7 linked regions of the Homo sapiens genome follow. The protein of the gene in region 3 purifies or fractionates together with the protein of the main gene of each other region. This does not show direct contact. Each region holds a gene or a part of one and is shown on either strand. Other genes may lie near its edges. The genes, in order: CHLSN, RCC2, MINK1, RAPGEF1, ALKBH5, GALNT13 and RIOK2.

What was found.
Region 1: the proteins of MINK1 (region 3) and CHLSN purify together in Homo sapiens (affinity purification with mass spectrometry, with the first as the bait; one study listed by BioGRID). This does not show direct contact.
Region 2: the proteins of MINK1 (region 3) and RCC2 purify together in Homo sapiens (affinity purification with mass spectrometry, with the first as the bait; one study listed by BioGRID). This does not show direct contact.
Region 4: the proteins of MINK1 (region 3) and RAPGEF1 purify together in Homo sapiens (affinity purification with mass spectrometry; one large-scale study listed by BioGRID and IntAct). This does not show direct contact.
Region 5: the proteins of MINK1 (region 3) and ALKBH5 purify together in Homo sapiens (affinity purification with mass spectrometry; one large-scale study listed by BioGRID and IntAct). This does not show direct contact.
Region 6: the proteins of MINK1 (region 3) and GALNT13 purify together in Homo sapiens (affinity purification with mass spectrometry; one large-scale study listed by BioGRID and IntAct). This does not show direct contact.
Region 7: the proteins of MINK1 (region 3) and RIOK2 purify together in Homo sapiens (affinity purification with mass spectrometry; one large-scale study listed by BioGRID and IntAct). This does not show direct contact.

What each region holds. Positions count from the first base shown.
Region 1 is NC_000007.14:999,377-1,002,247, forward strand, and holds part of CHLSN (protein cholesin), read right to left. Parts: intron 1,176-2,871; coding exon 1,094-1,175; coding exon of another isoform or gene 1,090-1,093; intron 1-1,089. UniProt on the Homo sapiens protein: Hormone secreted from the intestine in response to cholesterol, where it acts to inhibit cholesterol synthesis in the liver and VLDL secretion,leading to a reduction in circulating cholesterol levels. Acts through binding to its receptor, GPR146.
Region 2 is NC_000001.11:17,412,178-17,415,677, forward strand, and holds part of RCC2 (protein RCC2), read right to left. Parts: intron 1,541-3,500; coding exon 1,360-1,540; intron 1,002-1,359; coding exon 896-1,001; intron 18-895; coding exon 1-17. UniProt on the Homo sapiens protein: Multifunctional protein that may affect its functions by regulating the activity of small GTPases, such as RAC1 and RALA. Required for normal progress through the cell cycle, both during interphase and during mitosis.
Region 3 is NC_000017.11:4,892,340-4,895,450, reverse strand, and holds part of MINK1 (misshapen-like kinase 1), read right to left. Parts: intron 3,050-3,111; coding exon 2,939-3,049; intron 2,796-2,938; coding exon 2,683-2,795; intron 2,473-2,682; coding exon 2,384-2,472; intron 2,166-2,383; coding exon of another isoform or gene 2,142-2,165; intron 2,018-2,141; coding exon 1,854-2,017; intron 1,464-1,853; coding exon 1,358-1,463; intron 1,278-1,357; coding exon 1,140-1,277; intron 927-1,139; coding exon 818-926; intron 377-817; coding exon 209-376; intron 116-208; coding exon of another isoform or gene 102-115; coding exon 1-101. UniProt on the Homo sapiens protein: Serine/threonine kinase which acts as a negative regulator of Ras-related Rap2-mediated signal transduction to control neuronal structure and AMPA receptor trafficking.
Region 4 is NC_000009.12:131,576,275-131,579,675, forward strand, and holds the end of RAPGEF1 (rap guanine nucleotide exchange factor 1), read right to left. Parts: intron 3,374-3,401; coding exon 3,223-3,373; 3' UTR 501-3,222; downstream 1-500. UniProt on the Homo sapiens protein: Guanine nucleotide-releasing protein that binds to SH3 domain of CRK and GRB2/ASH. Transduces signals from CRK to activate RAS. Involved in cell branching and adhesion mediated by BCAR1-CRK-RAPGEF1 signaling and activation of RAP1.
Region 5 is NC_000017.11:18,200,828-18,204,327, reverse strand, and holds part of ALKBH5 (RNA demethylase ALKBH5), read right to left. Parts: intron 1-3,500.
Region 6 is NC_000002.12:153,878,422-153,881,921, reverse strand, and holds part of GALNT13 (polypeptide N-acetylgalactosaminyltransferase 13), read right to left. Parts: intron 1-3,500. UniProt on the Homo sapiens protein: Catalyzes the initial reaction in O-linked oligosaccharide biosynthesis, the transfer of an N-acetyl-D-galactosamine (GalNAc) residue from UDP-GalNAc to a serine or threonine residue on the protein receptor.
Region 7 is NC_000005.10:97,176,748-97,180,247, forward strand, and holds part of RIOK2 (serine/threonine-protein kinase RIO2), read right to left. Parts: intron 2,447-3,500; coding exon 2,308-2,446; intron 1,102-2,307; coding exon 985-1,101; intron 545-984; coding exon 369-544; intron 1-368. UniProt on the Homo sapiens protein: Serine/threonine-protein kinase involved in the final steps of cytoplasmic maturation of the 40S ribosomal subunit. Involved in export of the 40S pre-ribosome particles (pre-40S) from the nucleus to the cytoplasm.

The sequences.
Region 1 (2,871 bases), on a different chromosome or scaffold from region 3:
CACCCTTGTGCCTGCCCCAGTGTCGCGATTACCGGAGCTTGCAATAGGGCTTACAATCGGCTTGCAATAGGGCTTGCAATGTGTATGTCCTCTAACTCTGAGGAGGGAGAGTGGCTTGAGCCCAGGAGGTCGAGGCTGCAGTGAACTGTGGTCGTGTCACTGCACTCCAGCCTGGGCGGGGCCCTGTCTCAAAAAACGCCCACAAAAAAACAAAAACAACAAAATAATGAAAGCAAGTGGCTGCAGGCTATGCCTGGAATGTCCCAGGGCTGTGAGTGGGGCTGGTGGGCCTGCCCCGCTCTGAGAGTCTGCAAACACAGGCACGGCAGGAGAAAACCGCCCCCTGCCCCCAGCGCGCACGCAAAGCCTGGCCTCTAGTAACGTGGGCGCAGGAGAGCCAGCGAGGCAGGAGGCACTGCCCACCGGATGCAGCTCAGCAGAACCGTGGGCTCCTCCAGCCTCACAGGACATGGGCAGCTCCAGCCCGCCGCCCAGCAGCCGGGTTTAGTTCAGAATTCTGTCTCGTTTCATCCTGTGAAACTCTATCTCACATCCTGCCCCTGAAAAGGGCAGCTGCCCACACGTACATGTGTAGACACACATCACGCGCACACACGTGTAGACACACGTCATGCACACACGCACGTGTAGACACACGTCACACGCACACGTGCAGGTGGCCTCCCTAAGGTTACCCCGTGTTGGTTTCTGCCCTGAAGGCCGGCGGCAGGGCTCCTGGAGGAGGCAACGCTGCTCATCTCTTAGAACAAAGGCACCGGGAGACCTGCCCTGCAGTGGGGCCCTGAGGGCGGCCCCTTCAGACTGTGGCTTCTGCTGTCAGGGCCCCAGTGTGCACAGGAGACGTGCCTGCCCCGCCGTGCACAGACCTCAGCCCCCAGGAGACGTGCCTGCCCCGCCGTGCACAGACCTCAGCCCCCGGGAGACGTGCCTGCCCCGCCGTGCACACACCTCAGCCCCCGGGAGACGTGCCTGCCCCGCCGTGCACACACCTCAGCCCCCGGGGGGACGTGCCTGCCCCGCCGTGCACAGACCTCAGCCCCCAGGAGACGTGCCTGCCCCGCCGTGCACACACCTTGTCACTGTCATACATGTGCAGCAGGAGCCACGTCTGCCTCGTCTTCTGAAACCTCCAGTTCTTGTGCTTTTGGGCCCATCTAGGGAAAGAAAGACAAACATCTCAGGGTGCTGGGCAAAAGACTCCCGGGCAGCTGTCTGCCCTGAGAGATCGGGGACGCCTCATCTTAGGAGAGGGAGCCCCACCAGGTACTACACACCAAGGCCTCATGTGAAGAGGGTTTTTGGAGCCCCTCCCCTGCCCGAGGCGAGGAGCCGCAACCCCACGCCCTGCTGCCGCCTGACCAGGAAGCATGTGGACGCCACTCTTACCTTGGCCACCCCGGGGCTCACCACTGACCCCAAGTCCCCGTGGGCTCCCCCACCCCATGGGTCACACGGATTTTACAGGGGGGGAAGGATGAAGTGAGTTTCTCTGGGAGGAAAGGGAGCGATGTAATTGATGATGTATTTTCTACATGAAAATGGGAAGACTGTAAGGAACAATACCCTGAGTCCCAGGCCCTCACAACAAGGGGCCAGTGGGCCTGGGGACGAGCAGCTCCCGGCTGCTAGAGGGGCCGCTCCCCAGGGCCACAACCACCCCGCCCCCGTCCCGCTCCTGCACTAGGGCCTGTGGACATCAGGCAGCTGCGGATGGAGCGAAGCTGGCGCTGTGGGTAGGGCAGGGCCAGGCAGGGTTTACTCCAGAGACCTCCTCCCAGATACGTGTTTCCAGGGCCAGGCAGGGCAGCCGAGCCCAGAAGCCTCCATCAGTGTGCAAGCCCAGGTCTGAAGACTGTAGGCTCAGCACGGGGGAGGGCCCTGTGCCTGTTGTGAGCGCTGCCCAGCTTGCCTGACCCCACTGCCATGTGGGTGAGTGGAGTCCTGTGGGTGTGGAGCCCTGTGGGTGGGGAGTCCTGTGGGTGAGTGGAGTCCTGTGGGTGGGGAGTCCTGTGGGTGAGTGGAGTCCTGTGGGTGGGGATTCCTGTGGGTGAGTGGAGTCCTGTGGGTGGGGAGTCCTGTGGGTGAGTGGAGTCCTGCGGGTGAGTGGAGTCCTGTGGGTGAGTGGAATCCTGTGGGTGGGGAGTCCTGTGGGTGAGTGGAGCCCTGTGGGTGGGGAGTCCTGTGGGTGAGTGGAGTCCTGCGGGTGGGGGGTCCTGCCGGTGGGGAGTCCTGCGGGTGGGGAGTCCTGTGGGTGAGTGGAGTCCTGTGGGTGAGTGGAGTCCTGCGGGTGGGGAGTCCTGCGGGTGGGGAGTCCTGTGGGTTAGTGGAGTCCTGTGGGTGGGGAGTCCTGTGGGTGAGTGGAGTCCTGCGGGTGAGTGGAGTCCTGTGGGTGGGGAGTCCTGTGGGTAGGGAGTCCTGTGGGTGTGGAGCCCTGTGGGTGGGGAGTCCTGTGGGTGAGTGGAGTCCTGTGGGTGGGGAGTCCTGTGGGTGAGTGGAGTCCTGTGGGTGGGGAGTCCTGCGGGTGGGGAGTCCTGCGGGTGGGGAGTCCTGTGGGTGAGTGGAGTCCTGTGGGTGAGTGGAGTCCTGTGGGTGGGGAGTCCTGTGGGTGAGTGGAGTCCTGTGGGTGGGGAGTCCTGTGGGTTAGTGGAGTCCTGCGGGTGGGGAGTCCTGTGGGTGGGGAGTCCTCTGGGTGAGTGGAGTCCTGTGGGTGGGAAGTCCTGTGGGTGAGTGGAGCCCTGTGGGTGAGTGGAGTCCTGTGGGTGAGTGGAGTCCTGCAGGTGGGGAGTCCTGTGGGTGGGGAGTCCTGTGGGTGAGTGGAGTCCTGCGGGTGAGTGGAGTCCTGCGGGTGAG
Region 2 (3,500 bases), on a different chromosome or scaffold from region 3:
CAATGATGCTGCTCTTCCTGCAAACAGGCAGGCTGTCACTGCAGGGCCAGCAGCCCCAGACCTGCACCCACGCAGCTATGGCTCAAGGGCATGAGTGTGAGCTGCCACTTTTCCCTTGGCGTACTCATTCCAAGTAGCAAACACAATAACAGGGCCAACAGGTTTCTCCTCAATCCTAAGATTGTTCCGTGCAGGCCACTCAACGCTTCAACAAAACAACAAAGCCCTTAGACAGGCCTAGGGGCCAAAGGCAGGGGACCTTGCTGTGCATCCTGCACAGCTCTCTCTCAGTGGGAGGTCGCTTTGGGAAGAGGAGACCAGATCAGGATAAAGTGAAAGCCTGTTCCAGAGGGAGCAGCCTTCATGCATAATGATTTGGGCAGGGCTAGAGCCTTCAACAGATTAAAGCCACGCCGACAGAGGCCCCTCATACTGTTCCACCCACACCTGCCAGCTGATAAATCCAACTCCTCAGCAAGAAGTGCTAGCTAACTCAACAGGTGTCCTGAAATGAACTACAAACCACTGCTGCCAAGACAATGTCGTCTTCCCAGTGTCACAGCAACTCAAGTCCTGCTACGTTTCCAACTACGTATAATTTTCAACCTGCAGCGTAGGAATACATCAAGCTCTGCTTGTTTATTTCTTTGAACAGAAACCTTCAAAATGACTTTCTTCCCACAAGACAGGGAACAGCCATCTGTTCTAGCAGCAAATGGGCCCTCTCCCCTCCTGTACCCCCGGACTCTGGGATTCAGTGTGTCAGATGGCCTGCTGAGGACAGCCCAACAGGCAGCAGAAACAGAGCCCCATCAGGGAGGGGCACCCCATGGGTGTGTCTGACACCCCCATGAAAGGAAGAGACCTCATACCCACAGGAGATGCTGCCACCTACCCACAAGCCAGGCTCCGGATTCTCCAGCCGCAGAGGTCCTGCACTGCTTTTGGGTACATGGTAGATTCACGGGAGGTGTTGGTGGCCCCCCAGAAAAACAGACCACCTAAGGGAAGACAAAACATGTTCCCAGCGTGACCAGACATCGAGAGCTGAGTCTCATCTTCAGTATTATCAGGGTGAAAAGAGGACGGGATGGCAAACAAGTGTTCTGTCTAAAAGATAACTGGAGCCAGGCGTGGTGGCGTGCCTGTGCAGTCCTAGCTACTCAGGACGCTGTGGTGGTAGGACTGCTTGAGCCCAGGAGTTCGACACCGGCCTGGACAACACAACGAGTTCCTGTCTCAAAAAAATAAAGAACACTGGGAGGTAAAGAGAATTGGGGTTCGTGGTCTAGGGACAGGACAATGGCTACACGGTTCCGCACCAGAGCACTGATAAGCCAGGGGGCAGAAATCACTAACCCACTTCACTGACAGCAAAGGAGCAGGTGTAACCAGCATAGATCTGGGAAGCCCCACGCCCAGGGAAGTCAAACAGCTTCACCAGGCGGGGGACCATCTCATCCTTCTGCTCTGCGTGGCCCAGCCGGCCATAGCCACCAAAGCCCCAGGAGAAGACTCGCTTCTGGGAGTCCAGGACCAGCTGCAAGGAAAGAAAACACAGGGTTGGAACAAACAGACTTCCAACAGGCAACAAGAGGGGTCATCGTTTCTGTGCAGACAACCTGGTGCAAATGCTAAGGGCAAAGGAACAGCAACATTCAAGATCCCCTACCAGCCGGGCACGGTGGTTCACATCTAATCCCAACACTTTGGGAGGCCAAGGTGGGTGGATCACTTGAGGTCAGGAGTTTGAGACCAGCCTGGCCAACATGGTGAAACCCTGTCTCCAAAAACCAAAGAAATATCCTTTGCCTGCCTCCAGCAGAAAGATCCTCTACCTCCCGCCTCCAGCAGTGGGGGAGGAGGCAACAGGAGCAAGTGTAGCAAAATGGCATGCATTCAATAAGCCCAGTTTGCTATTTTCTCTGCCAGGGACTCCATTTTCCAATCCTTTTTTGTTCTGTTTATTTATTTAAGTTACAAGTCTTAACCCTTTCCTTAATCAGAAGCAACAGGGCTATGTCTCCTGAGAGTTGGGCAATCATTTGATTCCCACTACAACAGAGATTCGGCCAGATGCAGTGGCTCATGCCTGTAATCCTAGCACGTTGGGAGGCTGAGGCAGGTGGATTGCCTGAACTCAGGAATTCAAGACCAGCCTGGGCAACATGGTGAAACCCATCTCTACTAAAATACAAAAAAATTAGCTGGGCACAGTGGTGTGCACCTGTAATCCCAGCTACTCAGGAGGCTGAGACAGGAGAATCTCTTGAACCTGGGAGGCGGAGGCTGCAGTGAGCCGAGATAGCGTCACTGCACTCCAGCCTGGGTGACGGAATGAGACTCCATCTCAAAAAAAAAAAACAAAACGAAACAAAAAAAAAAACACAACAAAAAAAAAACAGATTCAATTGCAGAAAGAACAGAAAAGGCCTACCTGTTCCTGGATTTTTCGTTTCTTTTCCCCCCCTCGAGAGGGTCTCGTGCTCTGTTACCTAGGCTGGAATGCAATGGCACGATCACGGCTCACCACAACCTCCACCTCCTGGGCTCAAGCGATTCTCCTACCTCAGCCTCCCAAGTCGCTAGGACTTGGGTGTGCACCACCATGCCCAGCTGATTTTTGTGGTTTTTTTGTAGAGATGGGGGTCTCACCATGTTGCTCAGGCTGGTCTCAAATGATCTGCCCACCTTGGCCTCCCAAAGTCCTCTGATTACAAACATGAACCACTGCGCCCGGCCTGGATTTTTCTTTAGACTTCCCTCACCCACAGGTACAGAGGTAACCTGTACCTGGTCACTGATGAAATGAACTCAGAGACACTTCAAGTGTTTAAGATTTATCTTCTTCAGTCTCGTTTTCCCATCTTCTGACATGCCAATTCAGTTCTTTGATGTTTCATGTCTAAACCATGGGAATCTACAACTTACTAAAAAACTTGGCCTATAAGGCCCTAAACAAGAGCCAACTTTATTTCCCCTGACTACATCAGACAAAACAAATCAGTTTTTGGACTTGCACAAACTGAAATCTCCTACCCTAGTCCTAGCCCAATTCCCTGGGCATTCTTCATCGGCAAGAAGATTCCAAGGGAAGGAGGTGGTGAGCTGAGACCACTCAGTGGGGAGGACCAACTTGATCTCTGGAATCCTAGCCCAGGCTTTTTCAACAAAGCATAGAACAAAGAGACTCCTAGGCATTCTCAGACAGAAGAACCACAGGAAGGCCATTAAAATTAAAAGATACACTAACAGCCGGGCGCGGTGGCTCACACCTATAATCCCAGCACTTTGGGAGGCCGAGGCAGGTGGATCACGAGGTCAGGAGTTTGAGACCAGCCTGGCCAACATGGTGAAACCCCATCTCTACTAAAAATACAAAATTAGCCAGGAATGGTGGCAGGTGCCTCTAATCCCAGCTACTCAGGAGGCTGAGGCAGGAGAATAGCTTGAAACAGGAAGACAGAGGTTGCAGTGAGTTGAGATCCCACCACTGCATT
Region 3 (3,111 bases):
CTGCTGGAAGCGTCGCCGCCCAATGAGTCCATACACCTTGCCCTGCCCACTTCGGTCCAGCAACATCAGCCCGTTCTCCGTGCCCACCAGCAGGTTGACCCCTGCAACAGGAGCCCTTGGGCAGGTCAGAGGCTCAGCCAGGCCCTCACCTAACCAGGAGCACAAGAGCCACGCCAGAGCCTCCTCAGCTGTCCCTGCCCTGGCTTACCCCAAAGGGCTGCACAGAGGATCTCGGAGTTGAATCGCTTCTTGTACTTCCGGATCTCAGGGGTCTCACTGTGGGCCCGGGTGTTGGTGGGATTCACGTTGACCACAGAACCCTTCCTCACGTCGTACTGCAGCTGGTCGAGCCGAGTGCCCTCTCCACCCACTAGGGCTGCCAGAAGGAGGAGGAGGTGGGAGGAGGGGCTGCAGCTTCTCACCCCATCTCTTTTTACCTCCATCCCCTATATCAGGTCTTGGCACCTCATAATACGCAGAAAGGAGGAGAAAGACAGGAGGAGAGGAGGTGCATGGGAGAGGGGGATAGAGTGCTGGACTTGGAGTCAAAAGGTCTGGCTCAAGTCCCATTTCTGTCACTTGTTAGCTTTGAGTCTTTGCCCAGGTCCCCTGGCAACTCTGAGCATTTCCTGTCCTGTGGGACAGGAAGGAGGGGTCTCAGAGGCTCTTCCTTGCCTCTGTGCCCAGGCAGGTGCTAGGGCCCAAGGGAGAGGTCCTGTGGCTATGCTTTGTGAGGCTGCGTCTCAAGACCACTGTGCTCCCCTCCAGGCTGCCCCTGGACCCTGGCCTCACAGCAGGTCTGTCCTCCTGTCCTCACCTGTGATGGGGATGCTGTCCCCACTGCCTCCAGGCTGGTAGATCCCTAGATCCACAAACATCGTGAACGAGCTCTTGCCAGGGGCCTTTACCAGCCCACGAGACTGGTACTGTGGTAGGGGGACAGCAGTCAGGCAAACAAGTGCAAGTCCAGCTGCGGCCCTGCCCCTGCTGCTGTTCCCCAGGCTCCAGCTCCCCAACTGGCACCCCCGCTGTCCAGCTCCCAGCGCTCCGCCCCATCCTCTGCCGTTACCCAGCACCGGGACCTCCTGCCCATCGCCAGGGCTCTTCTCTCCCGGCGGACCTGCCTCCGGCCCACTTACGTCACCACTCCCATCCTTCGAGGGTGGGCTTTGGCCTTTGCTGTTCTCGGTGGGTGAGTGGCTGGGCTGGACCACGTCAGGCAGGTTTGTGTACCCATTGCTGTCAGCATGCAGCAGGTTCCGCTCCTCTTCAGGGGTCTACAGGACAGAGGGCAGGGTTGGCGTGGGGCTGAGGAGGGCACACACAGGTACAGGGGAGGGAGCAGAGGCTCACTCACGCGCTGGACCACCATGGTGCCGCCCCCGTATGGGGGCTGGGTCCCGGTGATCTCCTCGACGTCGTGGACCACCATGGTGCTGACGCTGTCTGTATCCCCATCGCTGCTGTGAGAGAGGAAGGTGGGGCCCCTCCAGGTCCTGCCCGTGGCCACAGAAGTGCCAAAGGCAGCAGATGGCAGCCAGAGCCCAGGCTTTTGTCTCTATTCAAAACACAACCTGCTCCACCCTCACGGTGTAGCCCCTGCTCCACCGTGAGGTGCTTCCCTGCATGGCACACAGGGCAGGCTGGCACAGGGGCAGACAGGCACTTGAAGAGGCCACCCCACAACACACAGGGCAGCGGGAGAGAGACAGGAACCTGCACCCTCACCCCACTCTCTAGAGAAGGGAGCCGCTCTCCCTCAGACTTGCCCCAAAGCCCCACCTCTTCCCCACTGCCACTTCCCCTCCCTCCCTGTGCCTTGGAGTGGGAGGGCCCCACTCCCGATGCCGTACCGGCCCCCAGGGGTATCTCTGCTCCCCTCTGCTGGCCCGCCTTCGCCTTCCTCCTCGTCGTCCTCACTGCTTTCCACCTCCTCGCTGGACGACGAGTAGTCCATGGCCTTCTTGGGAGGCCGAGGGGCCTCGTCCAGAGTCCGCTCTTTCAGCAACACAAAGTCCTGCAGGGAGGAGCCACGTGAGGGGCAGGGAGAAGCTGGGCCTGGGTGGAGGTAGACAAAGGGTGCCGGGACACCCCAGCAGGGCGACAGGAGGGGCTCCCACAAGCAGGCCCATCTCACTAACCTCACCAATTGCTCGCTTATAGCTCTGGGAGGGGCCGCAGGGGAAGAAAGAGCCAGAAGAGAGGTTAGGAGAGAGGTTAGGAGAGAGGTTAGGAAAGGTTAGCACCATGAGAAGCACCAGTCCCTCCATCCCCACAGCCCTTCTCGGTAGATCAGCGGAGACCCCACCCCTGACACCCAGCACCCTGAGGCTAAGCCCCAAACCAGGATGAGGCAGGCCATGCCTGCCACCAGGTGACTCACTGCGGGCCGGCCTGGCCGTGAGCGGTGGTCGTCGGGCTTGGCTTTATTCCCAGGGGAGAGCACAGGGGAGCTGTCCGGTTTGGAGGAGACTGGACGGCAGGGTGGAAGAAGGTCACTGATGCCTGAACAAGGGATGGCCTCAAGCCCACACCCTGAGCCCCAGAACTCAGCCCCAAGTTCCATACCCACACAGGTCCTCCCTGTCCGTGTGGGTGCCCCAGTCCAAAGCCACCAAAGGCAGGGTCCATGGTGATAAGCCCCCAGGCCCAGAGCAGGCTGCCCAGCCCTGGCTCACATACCTCCCACGCGGTTCCGCTCCAGTGAGCCAGCCTGGGGGAGGTGCCCGTGAGAGGCTGGAAGGACGCTGTCCGAGCGTTCCCAGCCAGGGTCGCTCCTCCTGAGGTCGGGGTTACTGTTGGGGGGGCAGAGTCAGGGTCAGGGAGGCACGGTGCTCCCTTCTCTGGGGTGCTGAGCTGCACTGCAGAGGGAGCCATCACCAGGGAAGCGGGTGGCAGAAGTGAGAGGTGAGAGTGAGTTGGGGGACAACTCTATTACCTAGAGGCGTTGGGCGGGCCAGGGGGCTGAGCAGGGGGCCCTGGAGGCTTTGGGGTGCCCCGCTCTGCCCGCCTTTGCAGATAGATTTGCCAGGCGGAGTTGCTGCGAGGTCTGTGAAGGGAGCACAGGGGTGCCGAGGGGGCGGCGGGGGGGCGCTGAGGTGATGGGGCTGG
Region 4 (3,401 bases), on a different chromosome or scaffold from region 3:
GCCTCCTCACTCTGTCCCTTGTAAGTGCAGAGGCTCTGCTGTTCTTCACTGGGGCTGGGCCCGAGCCTCTGTGTGCTGCCTCCTGGGCGGCAGAGGACACACCGCAAAAGGCACGCCATAAAGACAGTGCTTCCGGGCCCCGAAGGAGCAATTCTAGAGCCTGTGCCCCCGAATCCCACCCGAGGAATGCCCTTTTCATCAGGACACTGGGGTGAGGGGCTCTTGTGCATGAACCGACCTCTGGAGCACGAGCAATTCTTTGTCCAGTTGAATGCTTCTAGGGCACAAGGCCTAGGAGGGAAAGTTCTGGTGACGTCCATTTCACTCAGCCACGACTACCCCAATGGCAGCAAGTGGGCCTGGGAGTGGAGCTGAATGACCCCAGCCTCCCAGGAGCCCCGCCTGCGACAGGGGTCTCAGAAAAGAGATGGCAAGGCCAGCATGGAGCAGGCTGGGCTGTCACTGTAGTTGCACACATGCAGCTGGGCGCGGACATGGCATTGGGCAGCTTTCATCTGTGTTTATTTTTTTTCATATAAAAGTTACATGTTTGAAATGTCTGCAGGAAGATGCCACCATCAGACAGGTTAGCTGGGGCATATATATTACAATGTAACCCTGTGGAGGTCGTGGGGCCGGAGCGGGAAGATGCTCCCCAGAATCGGGTTCAGGTCAGACATGGTGTGTGCCTGCCCCTCCTTGCCCCCCCACACCCCGACACCTGCAGGTGAGGACTGACCTCTGCAAGGAACGAGTCCTCCGCCTGGCTCACGTCTGTCTGTGAAGACTGATTCCCACAACCCGCCCGGGCCCCCCAAAGGAACAGACGAGCCACGGCCAGGCCGCAGCACTGAGCACAGAGCTCAGCAATAACCAGGGCCAGGCTTAGGGGGCACAGGGGGCTGCCTGCCATCAATAAGTTAGACATACATCGCACCTTGCCGTCCTCACGCAGGGAGCCCCTGGGCACTGCTCATGTGCTGCCTGGGCCCTGCTGCTCAGAACACCAAGGGCTCCCAGTGAGGGCCTGGGGAATTGCCTGGGCACACTGGGGCCAGGCACAGGGTCTGTTCTGAATTCAGGGAAGGTGAAGAGACCCCACCTCTATCCAGCTCAAGCCCAAGAACAAGGCAGACAGAGCTGTGGACAGCACCCGACCACAGACACGGTTCTGCCTGCTGCTGGAGTGAGAGGCCTGGTTTCTGAGGCTGCAGCATGGCACTGGCATTGCCTGTGCTACAGATGGGGACTCCTGCGAGTCTCACAAATACAGGGAGAATTTCAGTTCACACAACCCAAGGGCCCTGTGTGCAGAGCGGCCCTCACACGCGCACAGCAGCATTCAACAGAGCTGGGCAAGGGAAGGGGAGAGAGAGTCAAGGATTGAAATGAAGGGACTTCAAAAAGAAGGAACAAACTAAAAACCCAACCCACACACAATACTGTTAATAAGCCAGCGACTCTACACACACACTCCTTAAATAATAAAGTGACAGGTCCCGGCTGGCCCCGCAAGACCACCGCAAGAGGGGGTCCCGCCACCAGAGGGGGTCCCGCCTGCCACTGCACGGCTTTCCTCCCTCTATCTACAGGACAAACAAAACACGGGAGAGGGGAAAAAGCCCACATTTTCTTCTTGATAAATGCTGTTCAAAAACCCATGAAGGACTCAAAGTGACATGGTGGTTTAAAAAAAAACCTAAATGATCAACAGATGTTGCTTTCTATATTTTTCCTTTGTTCTGTTTGAACTGGGCTAAGTAAGCACAGTTAGACCCTGCTGTTCACTTGACCACGTCCTAAACCCGGGACAAGTGAGCACTCATTCATGCACAGCAGACCCGGAGGCATGGGCTGGGGCAGCACAACTGGGTTCCCGCAGCGCCCTGCCTGCAGGCTCATGCTGGAGGCCACGGAACCAGGCGGCACAGGGCAGATTCTGTTTGTCAAGCGCCCCACAAGCCTTGCCCAGATTGTCAAGCTCAGCAGCGAGAATGGTTTTGACGAGGAGGATGGAAACAGCATCTGCTCTGGAAGCCGCTCTGGCGTGGGGAGAGTGGGGAGAGGGTGCGCTTGCTGCAGCTGCTGCCTTAGGAGGCTCCTCTGTGGCCAGGCTTCTGCCTCCCTGCACCCTGAGGGACCATTCGGGTGCCTCAGGGATGCCCTTCCCTCCCAGGGGCACTGACAGCACTGGCTGAAAGGTCTGAAGAGCCAGAGGAGGAGCCCTGCTGGCTGGCCCAGGATGGGGCAAGGAGGGAGGGAAAGCCAGGGGATGGGGAGGGACATGAGATGGAGTTTAAGGCACACAGCGAGCGATGGAGGAGGGAGGTGCTGGCCTCTCCCCTCTGAATTAACTCCCCCAGGAGCTCAGCTCTGGCCTCAGTTTGGTGAGGTTCAGAAGACTCCCAGCAATAAAAAGTATTTCTTGGATGATCAAGTCCTCCCTTACTCCAGCCTCCTCTTCTCAGCTCCCCAGGTGGTGTGGGAGGGGCCCAGTGGCCTGGGGTGGGGGGTAAGGGGCGACGGGATGACAGAGACTGCTGCTGCTCTCAGGCGGGCAAGGGAGGCCCTGATGGCGCCAGTACCGCGGGGCAGAGCACCAGCTGCGGGGCTGCTAAGGCGTCACCTGCGTACCTTTCCGGGCCTGCTGAAAAGCTCACACCATCCTCCATGCATCAGAAGGGGAAGCGGAAAGTGAAAGGATCCTCCCCCGAGTCTACTCTGCATTCTGCCCACCCAGCTGCTTGCCCCCATTCCAGGGCCCCTGCAGGACAGGCCACCCCAGGAGGCCTCCACTCATTTGAGATTTCAGAAGATTCAGGGACCCTGGAGCTTAGGGAGGGGGAGCACCCACCACTTCCTTGGTCTGCTGATGAGGTCTCTGCTGCTCTCTCCCTGGAGGGGAGTGGGTGGAAGGTCAAGAGGGGAGAGATGGAAGTAAAAGCAGAAAACAAAACCAAACCAGAAAACCACCGGTTTGTAAATTGGCAACAAGACCTGCCTGCTGGCTGCCCTGAGGCCCACGGGTCTGCTCCCACAGAGGAAGGAGGCAGGAAGCGGCTGGCAGGCTCCAGCTCCCGCCCGGCCCCGCTGAGGGCTGGCCAGCCTCATGGCTCCGAGGCCGGGACTCCTGCCATGCGCCTAACAGGTCCAAGGTCCTCTCCGGTCTGGGAGCTGCCCTCTGCGCCCCTCGAGCATTCTCCTGGATCCCGGCGTCTGCTCCTAGGTCTTCTCTTCCCGGTCTGTTTTTCTCCTTGTTATGTTCCTGGGTTTAATTTTCAGAGACAGTTCCCATAGGGCCTCCTCAGCCAGGTGGTCACTGAAGTCATTGAAGAAGTTTATAATGTCGTCGTTCCTCCGCATGTCATAGTGCCTGGTGCAGGGGATGGGGAGCAGTCAGT
Region 5 (3,500 bases), about 13 Mb from region 3:
AGGCATGCACCCCAACGCCTGGCTACTTTTGTATTTTTAGTAGAGATGGGGTTTCTCCATGTTGGTCAGGCTGGTCTTGAACTCCCGACCTCAGGTGATCTGCCCGTCCTGGCTTCCCAAAGTGCTGAAATTAAAGGCGTGAGCCACCACGCCTGGCCCAATGACCTTTTCTTTACCAGGCTTCGTGTCATCAAGTTGAGAGGTCCAGGTGGCAGAAATCAGACTAAATAAAATGTTAGCCTTTATACTTGACTTAAAGGACTCTAAGGGCCTCATTGAAGAAAGTCCCTCCTCTGGTACCCATAAAGCTAAGACTCTATAGGTGCCAGGGAGCCCATGTTCAGGGAAGGAAGGCCCCTGTGTGCCCCAAAAGCCCCAGTGAAGCCCTAGTGGGGGCACTCTGGAGTTGTTTCTTCGGGTGAATGATGGATGGTAGGAGAAAAGCAGAGCCACCAAGATGAGAGCTCTTGACACATCCCCTGGGACTGTTATAAGTACATCTCATAACAGCTGGAGAAGCTCCTGCCCTCCCTACACTTCCAAAAATTCACCAAGCTGCAGGATGCCAGGCTAGAGCTTGACTCCAAGCCCAGTGCCCACCAGTAGCTTAACTTCAGAACATGCCCCTGTTAAAAGGCAACCAACTCTCATGGCGTAGGCCAGGTCCTCAGGGTTTAGCAGAGAGTCACAAATCTGGATTCAGGAGGCTCAGTTCTAGCAGTAAGGTCTGGACCCAGGCCTCCTCAGGTGGCAACAGGAATGAAGACCTGCCTTACAGATGAGTCAGTATTCAAAGGTCAGAGCAAAGCACCTCGGGCATGTGACCTCGGGCATGTGAGGTTGACCGTGATACCCAGAGCGGCCACCTACCGTGTCAGGACAAAGCAGGGACAAGGGAGGTCACAACAAAGGATGGCTGTAGCACTAAAGTGTGAACCGAAGGGAAGGGAGGGAGTTGATCCTATCCTAGGTCCTCCAGAGAAGCTGCTGGGGTGAATTATTCTCCCTGTAGGGACTGGAGAGCAAAGCTAAATCCCAGAGCAAATCACTAGCTTGAGTCACAAAGCTACTACCTACTACTCTGTGATGGCCTCTAAAGCACAGGTGGGGCCAGGCACAGTGGCTCACACCTGTAATCCCAGCACTTTGGGAGGCCAAGGTAGAAGGATTACTTAAAAGCCAGGAGTTTCAGACCAACCTGGGCAACAAAGTAAGACCTTGTCCCTATTTAAACTCTTTTTTTTTTTTTTTTTTTTAAAAGACAATCTTGCTCTGTCTCCAGGCTGGAGTGCAGTGGCACGATCTTGGTTCACTGCACCTCCACCTCCCAGGTTCAGGCAATTCTCCTGCCTCAGCCTCATGAGTAGCTGGGACTACAGGTGCACGCCACCATGCCCAGCTAATTTTTGTATTTTTAGTAGGGACAGGGTTTCACCATGTTGGCCAGGATGGTCTTGATCTCTTGACCTCATGATCCGCCTGCCTCAGCCTCCCGAAGTGCTGGAATTACAGGCGTGAGCCATCGTGCCCGGCCCTAATTTTTTTTTTTTAATTAAAAAATAAAGTGCAGGTGGGCCCTCCTCAGTGCAAGAGAACACTGTGCATGCAGGTGGCAGCACCACCATTTCTGGGAAGATGGTAAACCAGACCGCACTCAGGCCACGATGACTCTGGAGCGAGGGCAGTCCCCAGCCAGCTACCAACTACTCTCCAACGTCTGGCACCACCTTTACCAGGCATCCTTGTGCTAAAAGCTTGGCTTTCCAACAAAGCGAGGCAGAGACCAGTATTGTGGGCCTGTCCAAGCACCCTCTTGCCTATTTAGTAACCTGGGTCCCTAGAGCTAAGGTCTAAGCTCCAGCACCTTTGAGAATCAGACTCCCACAAAGCTCAGGTCTGTACCTTGCTGGCTCTCCTGCAGTAGTACCCACTCCCCTCACGGGACTCTCCCCACCCATCTTCCACCAGCCCCCTGCCAACATCAGACTTCTGTTTTTTTTTGTTTTTTGTTTTTTGTTTTGAGTCGGAGTCTCGCTCTGTCGCCCAGGTTGGGGTGCTGTGGTGCGATCTCGGCTCACTGCAACCTCCGCCTCCTGGGTTCATGCCATTCTCCTGCCTCAGCCTCCAAGTAGCTGCAACGACAGGCGCCTGCCACCATGCCCGGCTGATTTTTTTTGTATTTTTAGTAGAGACGGGGTTTCACCGTGTTAGCCAGGATGGTCTCGATCTCCTGACCTCACGATCCGCCCGCCTCAGCCTCCCAAAGTGCTGGAATTACAGGCGTGAACCACCGCACCCGGCCAATTAATTACTTTCTTTGAAACAAGGTCTATCACCCAGCCTGGAGTGCACGGGTGGGATTACAGCTCACTGCAGCCTTGACCTCCTGGGCTCAAGCAATCCTCCTGCCTCAGGCTCGCGAGTAGCTCGGACTATAGGTATATGCCACCACACCTGGTTTTTTAAATCAATCAATCAATCTATCTATCATCTATCTATCTATCTATCTATCTATCTATCTATCTATCTATCTTATCTATCCTATCTATCTATCTATCTATCTATCTATCTATCTATCTATCTAAGATGGAGTCTCACCCTGTAGCCCAAGCTGGAGTGCAGTGGTGCAATCTTGGCTCACTGCAACCTCTGCCTCCCATGCTCAAGCGATTCTCCCAAGTAGCTGGGACTACAGATGCATGCTACCACGCCCGGCTAATTTTTTGTATTTTAGTAGAGATGGGGTTTCACCATGTTGCCCAGGGTGGTCTCAAACTCCCGCGCTCAGGCAATCCGCCCACCTCGGCTTCCCAAAGTGCTGGGATTACAAGTGCGAGCCACCGCACCCAGCCAGGAAGAGTTTAGAAGACCACCTAGCATTCACAAGTTTAACCACAACTGCCCAATTTACAGGTGCAGATAAGACTGCATTTGGAGAGGAGTGGCAGAGCCAGGGCAGAAGCCCAAGTTTGTCACCTTCCTGGTGATCCCATTGTACCCATATTCCTTGGGCAGGCCACAGACACATCAGAACAGTCAGGCTGCCAAAAGGGCAGGGTGTATGCACGTGGACACAGACTTACTGAACCAGGGAACAAATGTAAGCTAAATCTAACCACAGGAGACACAAATCATGGAGAAAGGAGCAACACCAAGCCCTGGTCAGAGAAACTAAGAGCTAGCCACCCCTCACCCCACTGCTGAGGAACGAGGTCCAGAATGAGACCTCCACTTCCTTCCACTGCTCATCCATCCACTCAGCCTCACATTCAGATTGCTCTGCTCTCATGGAAGGTCTCCTGACTCCTCGAACTCTGTGGATCTAATGACCAAGTAAGCTATTGAGCTTCGCTTCCTACAATCTCTCACATGCAAATCCCTCACCCCACTGCTCACATGCCTCCACGGCTCCCCAGCGCGCTTAACATTTCTCTGCACAGCGTGAAGCTTTTGCTGTCTTAGGCCGGTGTATCAAGTCCTCCACTCCTTATCTATTCTGT
Region 6 (3,500 bases), on a different chromosome or scaffold from region 3:
ATAGTAATAATGTTCTTCAGAATGATTCAAATAAGGATCTCTGTTGAGATAAATGTGAATTGCCCATCTGCACAGACCTTAAGGGACACAGGGTAAAATTGATACTACTGATTTCATGTTTGAAATGCCTTATATCCTGTTCTGTTTGTGGAAAATGAGAAAACTGATTAACATTTGCAAAAAAAGATTAATTGAAGTTCAAAATTATTTGAGATATTTGCAAATATTTTACATTTGTGGAAGTTAGTTTTCCTTACAAAAGGAATGGAAATGATGTATACATGTTATCCCACTTGAATTAGCATTTTATATAGATAATAAGAATTTGTGCATTGTAGAAGCAAAAATGGGCCTATTGTTGTCTGCAACAGCAAATGAAGTGTCTCATAACTAGCAATTCAATGTGTTAATTCAGCTGTACCATCCAATTACCTACAATTCATCTCAACTTTAGTGCACAACAATAAAAGTCTTTTAAAAATTTTTGACAAAATGTCTGCTCTAGGTTACCAAAATAGAGGAAATACTATCCATAAGTCTGACAGTGGGTACCACAGAATATAAATTGTTAAAATTATTTATCACAGCCTATCAATATCACAATGATTTTTGATGTGAAGTCAGTAATCTAGCATAAATAATGAACCATATATTGGTTGTTTTATTTTTAAAAAGTCTGACCAAGTAATGTGAGAACCGTGTGGCAAGTGAAATTGGCATCCCCTCAAATAACACGGCATTCCTTTGGAGCCATGGCCTGCCACCTGCCAACTGACCACAGGGCCCAAGCACACAACTCTAAAAGTAGACAAAGGTAATGAGATGCAAATTTAGCATCCCCTTCCACCTGTTAAATGACCTAGATGCAAGAGCTATAGTGTCTCTTACCTATTCAGAAACTAAATGATTAAATGAACAGCCTTTTTTAATTTCCTTTTTTGTTTTTTGTTTTGTTTTGTTTTGTTTTACCAGAATCAAGGAAACCAATACATAGTTCAGTCTGGCTACATGAAGATTTATTAAGTCATAAAAGAGAGACAATTTAAAGCAAAAAGCACCATGAAGAAGAATGGAAAGAAGAACAAAGAACAAGATATGGAGCAAAGAAAAAGAATACTAAAAAATAATAAATACAGTATTTACCTTAAGAAAAAAATCAAAAGGTATGCTTAAAATCTATAACATATGAATAAAATCTGCACCATATTCAGTGACAGACTGTTTCTAATATTTTTCAGGACAAGTGATATATAATCCTATTTGAGACTGAATGATCAAGAGAATCGAAGAAATATAAGTCTCAGGAATCCTGGTGAAATTTGCTATAAGAAAAAGAGAAAAGATGGTAGTGAGTCTTGAAAGTAGAATAGTCAGTAACCCCATAAACCCTTAAATCATTTACTGAATTGGAAATCACATTGTTTCTAAATGCCGATTTTTAACTCTTTTTTAAACCACACAAGTGGAATGACTCATTATTGGGGGTTTAGAATTCAAATAATTTACATAATTTAATCAAACATCGGTCTAAAATAAAATTCATTTTAAAAAACACCAAAGAAAAGCCATTTTACAAGATTATTTTAGTGTATTAAACAAAAATATTAAATAACAGAAAGGAGAAAATGTACTTTGTTAAAGATCAATACATCAGTTTTCACAAGTGATTATAAATTACAAATATTCCATCTTATACAAAGCTTACAAAAATTATTGAGAAAAAATCCATAAATTTAGGTAGAATTTCCCCAATCCTTCCATAAATATGAATATTTCCTAATGTAACTTAAAGATCTTATGAGGAGCATTACAGGAAAATAAATTGTTTCTTATTTAGTATAAAGATGTAAATCTTAGTTACGTATTTGAAGTATATATGGTTATTTTGTTATGGATTGAAACAAACAGCTGTTTATTTTCCAAATCTTTTAAAAATATTCTTGTCTGCAACATTATGTATTACTGATTATTAATATTGTTTTGGTCTAATTAGAGGCCAAGTCAATGATGACACTACTTGAGGAAAACCACTCTGATTTTTCCATGTTTACTATCCCATTCATAATTATATTTATTTATCTGGTGCAACAACTTCTAAAATATAAACTTTTTAAAAATTTTCCAACTCGAGAAATATCAGCTTTTCTTCCTTCACTTTCAAAGGCAAAACTTACTCAAATAGGGAAAAGACATAGAAATCTGTGTTCTGTTTTCAATTCTGCTACTTCAAGTTTTGTGGCTCAAAGCACGGCCAGGATCAGTGGCTCATGCCTGTAATCCCAGTACATTGGGAGGCTGAGGCGGGAGGACTACTTGAGGCCAGGAGTTTAAGACCAGCCTGGGCAACATAGTGAGACTCTGTCTCTACCAAAAAAAAAAAAAATTAAAAATTAGCCTGACATGGCAGCACATGCCTGTAGTCCTAGTTACTTGGGAGGCTGCGCCAAGGGGTTTAAGGCTACAGTGAACTATAATTGCACCACTGCACTCCAGCATGGGTAACAGAGGCAGACTCTGTCTCAGAACACACACACACATGCACACACACACACACACACACACACGTAGGTAGTTTTAATTATTTTATCAAAATTAACATCATCCTTGCCCTTCCACTGATCTTCTTACACTGGCCAACTTACTTAACCTTTCTGTGACTCACTTTCCTTGTCTCTAAAATAAGAATACTAATAAAATCTACTTTTGAAGGTCTTTATGATTAAATGAATCAATATCTGCAAAGCACTTAGAACAACTCTGGGGCATAGTAATTGCTGTGTTTTGTTAAATAAATCTGTTAAGTGATATACTACAAGCAGATTAGTTGCTTGAAATGTCACTGCACCTCAGAATCACATAGGAAAATGTGCATAAAGGTAGATTCTGTGGATCCATCCCAGTTAAATGAGACTCTGTATCAGTGGGACCTGAACACCTGTAACTACAATGAATAAATAAACTCAAGGTAATTTGGATTTACAACCTGCTTTGGTAGAAATGAAACTAATGTCTTAGGTCAATTTAGCCACATTTCACACACTCCACCAGTATTCTTTTCCTCTTTGATGGCCCAAATAGACACTATCTAAAGCAACCTGGGATGTAAAACCAACCACCAGTTTTACAAGAGCACTAACCAAACCTGCTTCACTTTCGCCAAGGCAAAGAAGTAAAAATGGAGCAAACTGACCCGTACAAGTTGGGATGTGTTTTTTGGAGGGAAGATGGAGAAATTAGTTCTGACAAGCTCTTTTTGTCATTGCCCAATATTCATTTCCAATCCCAGGACACAGAGTGGCACCATCTTAGTGTCAGTAAATGGCAGTTAACTACCAAGAAGGAACAAGTCATCCCTAATCTTCCAATCATTTCAACAAACATTAACACAGTAAACTAAGGCTAAAGCAAGTGCTAGCATCTTTCCTAGGTCCAAATTTTATTTGAAACTAGGAAGAGAATGGAATAAGCTATAAGCATTATGTCATCAAGTCATGAATATG
Region 7 (3,500 bases), on a different chromosome or scaffold from region 3:
CCTGGTGTTTTCAATTAGAAACAGACATATGTATAGTTACATATATTGAATAGATATATATACATCCACACATACATATTTGTGAGGTAACAGCATCATTAATTACTTTTGGCTCTTTCATCTTGTCAGCATTACAGAATGTGTTGCCCTTATGCATTAGTAACAATTTAAAATACCTTAACGTAGAAGGAAATCACTTAAAAGAGCCCAAATAATCAACAGAGTTATTTAAGATTGAGTCTGTCTGTAGGAATTGAGTCTAAGGTTAGAGAGATGTGGGGACAACAGAATCACACTTGTCATTAAGGCCTTTGAGACACATGTATTATTTGGCTAAAAAATGCATGACTACAAAATAAAATAAATACCTTCATATAGGCAAATTCCTTCATGGCAGAGAGACGAGATAAATATAGCCATGACACATTGTGCCTATGTTTATGATAATCGCGTTTGTTTTTCAAATTTCGAAACGAGGTTCTTCCTAGTCTGTGAAGCTTTAATGCAAATTGTTGTCCTTCTTCATTTGCAACAATGTAAATATCTAGAGACAAAATTTCAAAAACAACCATTATTACACGTTTATTCCAATCAGTTAAAACAATTCTAACTTTCTCTAATTTTATTTGTATCAAAAATGTCATTTTTCCTAATAAAGATTGAGTATCCCTCCTTATCCAAAACCTTCGGACCAGAAGTGTTTTGAATTTTGGATTCTGGTATATTTGCACATAAATAATGATATATCTTGGGAGTTATTAGAAGAAAATTAATTCCTGGTATAAATGAATTTTCAGTGATAGACGTTCAGAGAAAATAATAACCTACTAATTAAGGACACCTTCTGATTTGTACTGCTTCCAATCAACTTTCCAACTTACTGTTTAGTTAGAAAAAAGGGAAAATTAAAAGAGGAAAGGTTTCTGAAGGGAAAACATAAACTAAAGCAAAGAAAATACTTTGCACAGTACTATTAGCACTTACCTGATTCTTTGCCAACACCCATCTGGTTTCCAACAGACTCAACTACTTGCCTAGAAGAAAGTGTTTTCAAAGCTAGGTAATCATATCCTGCATTTGTCAACCGATAGCCCTGGACAGCTAGACAAAAATCAAAGCATAAAGACCATATTTCAGTTACATTGTACAACCAAGTCACGTAAGTTCAAGTCATAAGAAAGATTTAACAATAAAGTCTTCATTGGAAAAAGATAAACTGCCCAGGCTCACAAGCTTCCAATTTCTTCCTATAATTTGCATTTCTTCTCCAGTGTACTGATAATCAAAATGTGACCTACAGACAGGTCTGTAAGTGTTTGTGACAAGATAAAAGGAGGAATTTAAGTTCAATTTGTATATCAATTTGACCTAGAATTTATGTCTGTTTTTGTATATCTGTTATCCATTTCATTTTTCTAGTAATTATTTTTTTGTATTTTATAAAAGTAAGGATCTGTGATAGGTTGGAAAAAACTAATCCTTCACCACAGATGGTTTCAGAAGTAATGATCTAGGGTATGACTACTGATTGTATTTTCCAAAGATGGTAGCCACAATAGCTTTATCCTATATGCTCTTCTGCAGTACCTACATGCTCTTCATGCTCTTCTACAGTACCTACATGCTCTTCTGCAGTACCTACATGCTCTTCATGCTCTTCTACAGTACCTACATGCTTTTCTGCAGTACCTACTTGCTCTTCTGCAGTACCTACATGCTCTTCTGCAGTACCTACATGCTCTTCTGCAGTGCTCTACCTGCTCTTCTGCAGTACTCTACCTGCTCTTATGCAGTACCTACGTGCTCTTCTGCAGTACCTACGTGCTCTTCTGTACTCTACATGCTCTTCTGCAGTACTCTATGTGCTCTTCTGCAGTACCTACGTGCTCTTCTGTACTCTACATGCTCTTCTGCAGTACTCTACCTGCTCTTCTGCAGTACTCTACCTGCTCTTCTGCAGTACCTACGTGCTCTTCTGCAGTACCTACGTGCTCTTCTGCAGTACTCTACATGCTCTTCTGCAGTACTCTACATGCTCTTCTGCAGTACTCTACGTGCTCTTCTGCAGTACCTACATGCTCTTCTGCAGTACCTACATGTTCTTACTACTATTCTTTTTTCACCTCCTTTGATCTGGGTGTGCCCTGTGATTATTTTGACTAATAGGATATGGCCGAAGTGTGTTCTGTCAGTTCTTCGTCTAATGCTTTACTAGTCTGGCAACTTCTACTTCTTGACTTTTGGAACACTTGCTCTGGTGGAAACCAATTACCTGAAAAATCACAAATGGTGCCTCAAAATACTTACTTTTGGTACGCTCCCAAGCTATGAGTTTATGTTTCACTAATTCTCTTAAAACTTTATTACAGCCACCATGTTTAAGGCTGGCTATAGAAGCAATCAAACTGCCGGGAACAATTTCATGGTTCTTCATGCCCATTTCAACCTGAAATTAAAGGAATCATTATATAATCATAATCAACACAAAGCCTTGTCTATCAAAACCCTGCGAAATTAACTTCTCCTTGAAGCTTTCCTGACTATGCAGTTCTCCAACTAATTCTGAGACATAATCACTTCCGTCTCTTGAAAATATTTTTAATTGCAATTTGAAATCTAATCATTGATATTTGTATTGGCTTTCCATTTCAAGAGTAGGAACTGTGAGTGCTAGACATACTGATGACATTTGGTCAATGCTAAAATACTTGATGACACCTAAACATTTGTCTTTAAAAACTACAGATATGCCAGATATTTATTAAGCAGGTATTTAATGAGAAAGTACTACATGTAGGCATCGTAGAGGATATATATATATATATGAATGATAGACTGGATAAAGAAAATGTGGCACATATACACCATGGAATACTATGCAGCCATAAAAAAGGATGAGTTCATGCCTTTTGCAGGGACATGGGTGAAGCTGGAAACCATCATTCTCAGAAAACTAACACAAGAGCAGAAAACCAAACACCACATTTTCTCACTCATAAGTGGGAGTTGAACAGTAAGAATACGTGGACACAGAAAGGGGAACATCACACACTGGGGCCTGTCGGGGGGTGGGGGGCTAGGGGAGGGATAGCATTAGGAGAAATACCTAATGTAGATGGGATGGGTTGATGGGTACAGCAAACCACTATAGCATGTGTATACCTATGTAACAAACCTGCACGTTCTGCACATGTACCCCAGAACTTAAAAGTATTTTATATATATATATAATATATATATATAAAATATATATATATTATATATATATAATATATATATAATATATATATTATATATATATTTTTAAATTTATTCCTCAGAGGTAAAAAGCACATATATATATATCTCTATCCTACATGCTCTTCTGCATGTGTATATGTATATATATATATATGTATATATATATATATATATGTGCTTTTTACCTCTGAGAAATTTTTATCTCATGATGGAAATTTTAAAAAATGGTATACATCTAAGTTTATTAGAAGTTAAGAAGT